Linked DNA regions of Homo sapiens. The protein of the gene in region 2 interacts with the protein of the main gene of each other region in a biochemical or structural test. Each region holds a gene or a part of one and is shown on either strand. Other genes may lie near its edges.

What was found. The genes of interacting proteins can lie anywhere in the genome.
Region 1: the proteins of ATP2A2 (region 2) and FRMPD3 interact in a test that uses a peptide from one of them, tested with the Homo sapiens proteins (one large-scale study listed by IntAct).

The regions. Positions count from the first base shown.
Region 1 is NC_000023.11:107,592,607-107,596,958, forward strand, and holds part of FRMPD3 (FERM and PDZ domain-containing protein 3), read left to right. Parts: intron 1-4,352.
Region 2 is NC_000012.12:110,283,540-110,288,627, reverse strand, and holds part of ATP2A2 (sarcoplasmic/endoplasmic reticulum calcium ATPase 2), read right to left. Parts: intron 1-5,088.

The DNA.
Region 1 (4,352 bases), on a different chromosome or scaffold from region 2:
GTGTCTTTTTCATATAATGACTCTTGGATCAAATGGTAAATCTACTTTTAGTTTTTTAAGGAATCTCCATACTGTTTTCCATAGTGGTTGTACTAGTTTACATTCCCACCAGCAGTGTAAAAGTGTTCCTTTTCACCATATCCACACCAACACATATTTTTTTTTTATTTTTAAATTATGACCATTCTTTTTTTTTTTTTTTTTTTTTGACAGAGTCTTGTTCTGTCACCCAGGATGGAGTGCAGTGGCACAACCTCCACCTTCCGTGTTCAAGCCATTCTCCTGGCTCAGCCTCTTGAGTAGCTGGGATTACGGGCATGCACCACCATGCCTGGCTAATTTTTGTATTTTAGTAGAGACGGAGTTTCACCATGTTGGTCAGGCTGGTCTCGAACTCCTGACCTTGTGATCTGCCCACCTCAGCTTCCCAAAGTGCTGGGATTACAGGCATGTGCTATCGCGCCCAGCCATTATGGTGAATTCTTGTAGGAGTAAGGTGATATTGCATTGTAATTTTGATTTGCATTTCCCTGATAATTAGTGATGTTGCACATTTTTCCCTATGCTCGGCCATTTGTATACCTTCTTTTGAGAATTGTCTATTCATGTCCTTAGCCAACTTCTTGGTGGGATTGTTTGTTTTTTTCTTGCTGATTTGTTTGAGCTCCTTGTAGATTCTGGATATTAGTCCTTTGTTGGATGCATAGTTTGCAAAGATTTTCTCCCACTCTGTGGGTTGTCTGTTTACTCTGTTGACTGTACCTTTTGCTGTGCAAAAGCTCTTTAGTTTAATTAAGTCCCAACTATTTATCTTTATTTTTATTGCTTTTGCTTTTGGGTTCCTGGTCATGAAATCCTTGTGTAAGCCAATGTCTAGTAGGGGTTTTCCAATGTTATCTTTTAGAACTTTTATGGTTTCAGGTCTTAGATTTAAGTCCTTAATCCCTCTTGAGTTAATTTTTGTGCAATGTGAGAGATGAGGATCCAGTTTCATTCTCCTACATGGGGCTAGCCAGTTGTCCCAACACCATTTGTTGAAAAGGGTGTCCTTTCCCCACTTTATGTTTTTGTTTGCTCTGTCGAAGATCAGTTGGTTGTAAGTATTTGGGTTTATTTTTGGGTTCTCTATTCTGTTCCATTGGCCTATGTACCTATTTTTATACCAGTACCATGCCTCGTAGTATAGTTTGAAATCTGATAATGTGATGCCTCCAGATTTGTTCTTTTGCTTAGGATTGCTTTTGCTATGCGGGCTCTTTTTTGGTTCCATATAAATTTTAGGATTTTTTTTTCTAGTTCTGTGAAAAATGATGATGGCATTTTGATGGGAATAGCGTTGAATTTGCAGATCGCTTTTAGCAGTATGGTCATTTTCACAATATTGATTGCACACACCCATGAGCATAGGCTGTGTTTTCATTTGTTTGTGTCATCTGTGATTTCTTTCAGCAGTGTTTTGTAGTTTTCCTTGTAGAGGTCTTTCACCTCCTTGGTGTTTTATTTTTTTTGCAGCTATTGTAAGAAGGGTGAAGTTCTTGATTTGATTCTCAGCATGGTCACTGTTGGTGTATAGCAGTGCTACTGATTTGTGTACATTGATTTTGTATCCTGAAACTTTAATGAATTCATCTATCAGATCTAGGAGCTTTTTGGATGAGTCTTCAGCATTTTCTAAGTATATGATCATATCATCTGTGAACAGTGACAATTCGACTTCCTCTTTACCAGTTTGGATGCCCTTTATTTATTTCTCTTGTCTGATTACTCTGGCTCTTTTAGTTATTTTTAAAAGTACAATTAAGTTATTATTGACGGTAGTCACCCTATTGCGTTATCAAATAGTAGGTCTTATTCATTCTTTCTACTTAGTTTGCTCTTGTTTTTCTGGTTTCTTAAGGTAGAAGTGGAAGTTTATGGTAATTCATATGAAATCTTTCCTCTTTTTTAACGTAGGCACTTTCAGCTACAGATTTCCCCTTTAAGAACTATTTTAGGCCGGGCGCGGTGGCTCACGCCTATAATCCCAGCACTCTGGGAGGCTGAGGTAGGCAGATTACTTGAGGTCAGGAGTTCGAGACCAGCCTGACCAACATGGTGAAACCCCATCTCTACTAAACATACAAAATTAACCAGACATGGTGGCACATGCTTATAATCCCAGCTACTTGGGAGGCTGAGGCAGGAGAATCGCTTGAACCCGGGAGGTGGAGGTTGCAGTGAGCTGAGTTCGTGCCATTGCACTCCACCCTGGGCAATAAGAGCAAAACTCCATCTCAAAAAATAAATTAATAAAAAATTTAAAAAAACGACTTTAGCTAGATCCCATAAATTTTGGTATGTGGTATTTTCATTTTTATTCATCTCAAAGTATTTTCTAATTTCTCTTGTGATTTTTTTCCTTGACAGCCTGGTTATTTAAGAGTGTTTTGGCTGGGCACGGTTGCTCATGCCTGTAATCCCAGCATTTTGGGAGGCTGAGGCAGGCAGATCACTTGAGGCCAGGATTTTGAGACCAGCCTGGCCAACATGGTGAAACCTCATGTCTACCAAAAATACAAAAATTAGCTGGGCGTGGTGGCAGGTGTCTGTAATCCCAGCTACTTGGGAGGCTGAGGCGGGAGGATCACTTCAGCCCAGGAGGTGAAGGTTGCAGTGAGCCAAGATTGCACCACTACACTCCAACCTAGGTGACAGAGCAAGACCCTGTATCAAAAAAAAAAAAAAGTGTTTTGTTTGATTTCTACTTGTGAATTTCCCAGACTCCCTTCTGTTACTGATTTCTAATTTAATTATGTTGTGCTCAGAAAATATATTTTGTATGATTTTATTCCTTTTAAATCTAGTAAGGCTTATTTTATATCCTAACATACGGTTTATTCACAACAGTGTTCCATATGCACTTAAGAATAATGTATATTCTGCTGCTGTTAAGTAGATGGTTCTATAGATTTCGGTTAGGTCTAGTTTGATTTATAGTATTGTTCAGGTCCTCTGTTTCCTTGTTGATATTCTGCTTAGTTGTTTTATCCATTATTGAAAGTGGAGTATTGGCCGGGTGCGGTGGGTCACGCCTGTAATCCCTGCATTTGGGAGGCCAGGGCAGGTGGATCACTTGAGGTCAGGAGTTTGAGACCAGCCTGGCCAACATGGTGAAACCCCGCCTCTACCAAAAACACAAAAAATTAGTCGGGCGTGGTGGCAGGCGCCTGTAATCCTGGCTACTCGGGAGGCTGAGGCAGGAGAATCACTTGAACCCAGGAGGCAGAGGCTGCAGTGAGCCGAGGTCGCACCACTGGACTCTAGCCCAGGCAACGGAGTGAGACTCCGTCTCAAAAAAAAAAAAAAAGAAAAGAAAAGAAAAGAAAGAAAGTAGAGTATTGAAGTCTCCTACTACTGTTGTTGAATTGTGTATTTTTCCCTTCAATTCTGTCAGTTTTTTCTTCCTGTATTTGGGAGTTTTGTTGTTAGGTGCCAGTGCTGTACTTTTGTCATAGATGTAATCTCTAGTGAAAGGCAACACTGGCATATTGACTCTGTCAAACTGGAGTTTGAGTGGCATTTTGAAGGCTTGTTTTCCAGCATCTTGACCACCATGATGAGTTATAAGGGTAATGGCTAAAAACATGGGTTTTGAAGTCTTTCAGACCTAGGCGGAAATCCAGTCTACCACTTGGTCTATGTAACCTTAGGTGAGTCAGTTTCTTTATCCTTAAAATGTGAATAATGATAATAACTACCTCATTGGGTTGTTATGAAGAATAAGTAGGATCATGTATATTAGGACCTTAGCCTAAGTTAGTGCTTGTTTGTTATCTGTCTGTCTGCTGTCCGAGTATATTCTCACAGATAAAATGGGGAAGAGCTCCAAAAACAGTGAGAGAAGGTATTCACAGATAAAGCATTTGCTATAGATAATTCTCAGATGCACACACCTACCATCATTAAGAGCGGTTGACGAGAGCATTTGCCATATGTATGTGTAGCAGGTAGGGCTGGCCCTGCATGAATGCAGAAAAGAATAAAATTTGAAGAATTATAAGAATGCTTCCCCTGCCCTCCTCCCACATATGCACATCCCAGCATATCTCCCATATACTTTACACATTCAGACCCCGGAATTCTAATATAGAGCCTTATTCTTTTAGGATCCCTCCATCAACAGGCCTCTTTGAAATGCAAACTCTTCGGCATTATATGTAGCCTGTTTAACAGGTTCTGACTAAAGCATTAGTAACTTGTCAGATTTATTTCCTTCTGCTAGAAGAGATTCAAGATAACAAGAACAACAGAGCACTGGTGGAAAAGCTCTGAAAAGGGGTGGGGACAGGGGTAGGAACAGTTCCAAGTGGGAC
Region 2 (5,088 bases):
TTCAAGACCAGCCTGACCAACATGGCGAAAACCCATCTCTACTAAAATACAAAAAATTAGCCGAGTGTGGTGGTGGACGCCTGTAATCCCAGCTACTGGGGAAGCTGAGACAGGAGAATCGCTTGACCCCGGGAGGCAGAGGTTACAGCGAGCCGAGATCGCGCCATTGCACTCCAGCCTGGCTGACAAGAGCAAAACTCCATCTCAAGGAAAAAAAAAAAAAGAATTATCTGTTTCAGCTGGGTGAGGTGGCTCATGCCTATAATCCTAATGCTTTGGGAAAATCTCTTAAGGCCAGGAATTGGAGACTAGCTTGAGTAACATAGTGAGACCCTATGTGTATAAAAAAAAATTTTTTTTTAATTAGTTGGGCATGGCAGGGCATGCCTGTAGTCCTGACTACTCGGGAAGATTGCTTGAAACCAGGAGTTTGAGGTTATAATGAGCTATGATCGTGCCACTACTACATTCCAGCCTAGGTGACAGAGTGAGACTCTGCCTCAAAAAAAAAAAAAAAAAAAAAAAAGGGCAAAGCATGATGGCTCACACCTATAGTCCCAGCTACTTGGGAGGCTCAAGAATCAGGCTTCAGCCCAGGTGTCTGAGGCTGCAGTGAGCTATAATCGCACCACTGCATTTACCCGCTGGGCGACAGGAGACCCTATCTCCAGGAAAATTGAAAATTTTAAACAGTGTGTAAAAGGATTATCTGGGCTGGGTGAGGTGGCTCATGTCTGTAATCCCAGCACTTTGGGAAGCTGAGGCAGGCGGATCACCTAAGGCCAGGAGCTGGAGACCAGCCTGGTCAACATGGAGAAACCCCGTCTCTACTAAAAATACAAAAAATTACCCGGGCGTGGTGGTGCATGCCTGTAATCCCAGCTACTCGGGAGGCTGAGGCAGGAGAATCACTTGAAGCTGGGAGGTGGAGGTTGCAGTGAGCCAAGATCGCACCACTGCACTCCAATCTGGGCGACAGAGCAGGACTCCGTCTCAAAAAAAAGACAGCGAAAAGGTAACAAGCTTCATGAACAGCAGCAAAGAAAAGTAAAAGAGAAGACCACTGCCCCATAGTTTTGGACATAAACAGTGTTTCTTCTTCCCTTTGCTTTGTGCTAAATACAATAATACCTGTCTTCTGGGACATACATTATCAAACAAGTTCAATGCTTCAAATGTGCCAGTATTATTCAAAGTAACCACTTGCTAATGAACACTCAACTACATTAAACTGTTAAAAATAGAGTAGGGATAGAGTATCTCCCAATTATTATCCACAAGATTAATCTCTGTACAGCACTGAAATACTGTACAACACTCTGTACTGCATTATACTTCTGATAAGTATACTAAAGCAAAAAAAAAATTTTTTTTTGAGACGGAGTCTCACTTTGTCACTCAGGCTGGAGTGCAGTGGCGCAATCTCGGCTCACTGCAACATCCGCCTCCCGGGTTCAAGCGATTCTCCTGCCTCAGCCTCCTGAGTAGCTGGGATTACAGGGACCCACCACCACGCCTGGCTAATTTTTGTATTTTTAGTACAGGTGGGGTTTCACCATGTTGGCCAGGCTGGTCTCGAACTCCTGACCTCAAATGATCCACCCACCTCGGCCTCTCAAAGTGCTGGGATTACAGGCATGAGCCACTCACTGCACCCGGCCAAATAAAGCAAATTTTAATCCAAGGTAAAAAGCACGTTCTGCTGTAAACTGGGAGACAGTCATGATATTGTGACTCAGATATCTATACACTGTGATAATAGGAAGAGCTCTTAGTATCATAAAAAGAAAACGAAAGAAAAAAGTGCTTAAAAAGATCATAAGCACATTTTGCTCCTAGTATTCTCAGAAACTTGCACTGTGCCTTTGGGCCCTCAAACAATTGCTCAATAAATGAAGAAATTTACATCAAGTTTTTTTTTTTTTTTAAATAAAGAGGAAATGGAAATTAAACATTTCGAGAATGATACAGAGAATTACCAATAAACGTTACGATAATTTCTGGGGGAGGACTTTCAGTCATTAATAAAACGGAAAAAAAAGCATGAATTAGAACTCGTTCCCTTCTGATCCAGATATAAAGCTATGTAAAAACATTCAATGCTTTCAGGCATGAGAAAACAATCTTTTTAAAAAGTACTCTATTAAATCCACCTTTCAAGTCATTATTTTAAGAAAAGCTCTGAATAAACTAGTTAAACCAATCAGTAATTTGCCCTTCTTATCCCATTTTTAAAATCAAAAATTAAAAGATACAGAAGAAAATTAAAATCACTACAAATCCAGTATCAAATGCTTTGAGTATTCTCTTCTGAGAAACTACAGTAAAAAGATCTCATGTATTTTCAGAAAATTCTACTGAAACAAACTCACCCAAGTTTTTGTGACATCAAAAGCACTAACTTAGGCCAGGCGCAGTGGTTCATGCCTGTAATCCCAGCACTTTGGGAGGCTGAGGCAGGTGATAACCTGAGGTCAGGAGTTCGAGACCAGCCTGGCCAACAAAGGTAAACCCCATCTCTACTAAAAATACAAAAATTAGCCGGGCGTGGTGGTGGACATCTGTAATCCCAGCTACTCAGGAGGCTGAGGCAGGAGAATCACTTGAACCCAGGAGGTGGAGGTTGCAGTGAGCCGAGATTGCACCACTGCGCTCCAGCCCGGGCAACAAGAGTGAGACTCCATCTACATTTAAAAAAAAAAAAAAAAAAAAGCACTAACTCAAGGGGGTCTAGTAGGAAGAAAAGAGACACACACATGCAAATGGTCAAATGTAACCTAAAGGTTGAGAAGTACCACAGTCTAGAAAGTTTTATTAGCATTTTAGGGTCAATCTAAGTAGCTGACATGGGAAACGACGGTGGAAGGTAGAGAAACCTATGCAAATTATTACCATATTAATTATGACTTTATGATTTAGACAGATGGGAGACCAACATGGCCCTAATGCCCACCTCCTTCAGATCTTTTCGCAAATGTCACCTTCCTCAAGAACTTTCCGGACCACCCAATTTGAAAACTGTTCCCCCTTTCACATACTCTGATATCCAAACCCCCTTGCTTTATTTTTCTCAGCAGTATTATCCTCCAGGTAAGGGTCTCTGTCTGTTTTATTCACTACTGTATCCCCAGTGTCTGTGACAGGTGCTCAATAAATATCTTAACAAAGCAGGAAAAGAGAAGAAAGGGCAGGCATCAGTTAAGCAACCATACGATGTGTTACATTTAGAACAAAGTTGGTAATCAAGAAGAGAATGAAAAGATAAAGTGAATGATAGAGGGGGGGTCTTCAGTGTCAAATTAAGCAATTTCTAATGTTCATATGCACTGGAAGATGAAGCTTATTTCTTTCAATCCAAGTGACCGTTTCAAAAAAACACTTTGGCCAATATTACAAATTAAACTAGATCCCTACAGGTCACAAGCATAGCTTCCTATTCTATGCCACAGCAAAATATTAACTATAGTTAACAGTTTACTACTTAGTTTGATATTTGAAGTAAGTCACTAATATTCTTTTTAATTTAAGCATGACTTGATGACGCATGATGTATATAAGAATCGCCTAGTCACTTCTCCAAAAAAACCTGAATATTCTACCATGTTTTTTCTGTTACATCAATAGGAATAAACTGACACAAAAAGAGAGTCAGTGCTCTTTCTTTTAAAAGATACAGACAGGAGGAATGAAACACTAAAGACAATGCAGCAGCAGTACCCAACCCCACATGAAGAAAATCAACACAACAGGTCTTATATCTGCAATTCCTTGATCAAACAAACCAAAGCAAATTAATTCTATAGAAGTACTCCCTAAACACTTATTCTTTTGCTATTTACCAACTCATAAAATAAAAATGTAACACAGTTCATTTCCTGAGCAGTAACTCCACAGTTACCAAAAAGGAGCTCAAATTTCAACTCCAAAATATAGCTCTATAATGCTCCACAAAGCCAAGGTCCTATCTTATAAAAAAAATTAAAGCATTTATTTAAAAACCTGCTTGAAATGCTTACAAACTATAAGCCTCTAATTACTTCAAAGTAAAAAATGAACAAACAAAACCCACACACATCATTAATTTAAAATGCTAATATAAAGTCACTCAAACTGGCCACTCAAAAAACAGACCCAGTGCAACCCCAATAGTAACACCAGTGGCATGGTTTCCCACACTGCTTCAACTTGTAACACAGAGAATTCAGTAAAAATGTATTTTGCTTCTGGCTTGTAGTCAGCTGATTAATTTTTAAGAAGTTCCCAATGACCTTATCGGACCCCATTATTTAACTGCCAACGCTATTATGTACCCAGTTAAATACAAATCTTACACTAGCTCCAAATGTATCATTTATTTTGCCCCATGACAATGTATTGATAAACTATAGTTAATCGGGTCTACTCATTTCCCTTAATTGGTAAAACAGCAGCCATTTTCTGGGGGAAAATTTTTTAATCAATCAAGAAGAAACATTTTATCAGAGGTACATTGTGACTGACTCAGAATGCTGAATGGTTTGCTATGTAAGTCCCCATTTTAATCAATGAAAACCACAGAAAAGGTTCTTGGGGACTGAATTATTAATGGCTACACAATACTTGGCTAATATGGCATAATAAAGTATCATAGCAGGATTTATGTAAAAATTATTCCACAAATTTATTTACTGCTGCCACTATCTACTTAAAAGATGGGTATAAATTTAATCTTTTCCTCATCTGAACTAAATAAATGCCCACTGCTTTGTTTATTTCGTTCTCAAAATAGCCCTCTATGGTATGGTTCTCACAAAGACTGAGGCTGATCCCTGGGACCTGCATACATATATGTACAAGAACTGAAACCGTGAAGTTTTGTCAATTTTGTTTTAACTAGAAAGAAGTACTGCACTGGGTGAATTTCACTTATCGTGGTTTTTGTAAGAATAACGTAATTCAAGAATAAAAGGCATCTCATGCTATTAGAATTAGGAACATCTGTGTCCTATTCCTGACCATTTTTAGGAAAACTAGCAAGCAATCTACTGCCCAAGAAAAAAAATGCAACAAAAAATTAATACCGAACATTTAAAAAAAAGTTAAAAACCT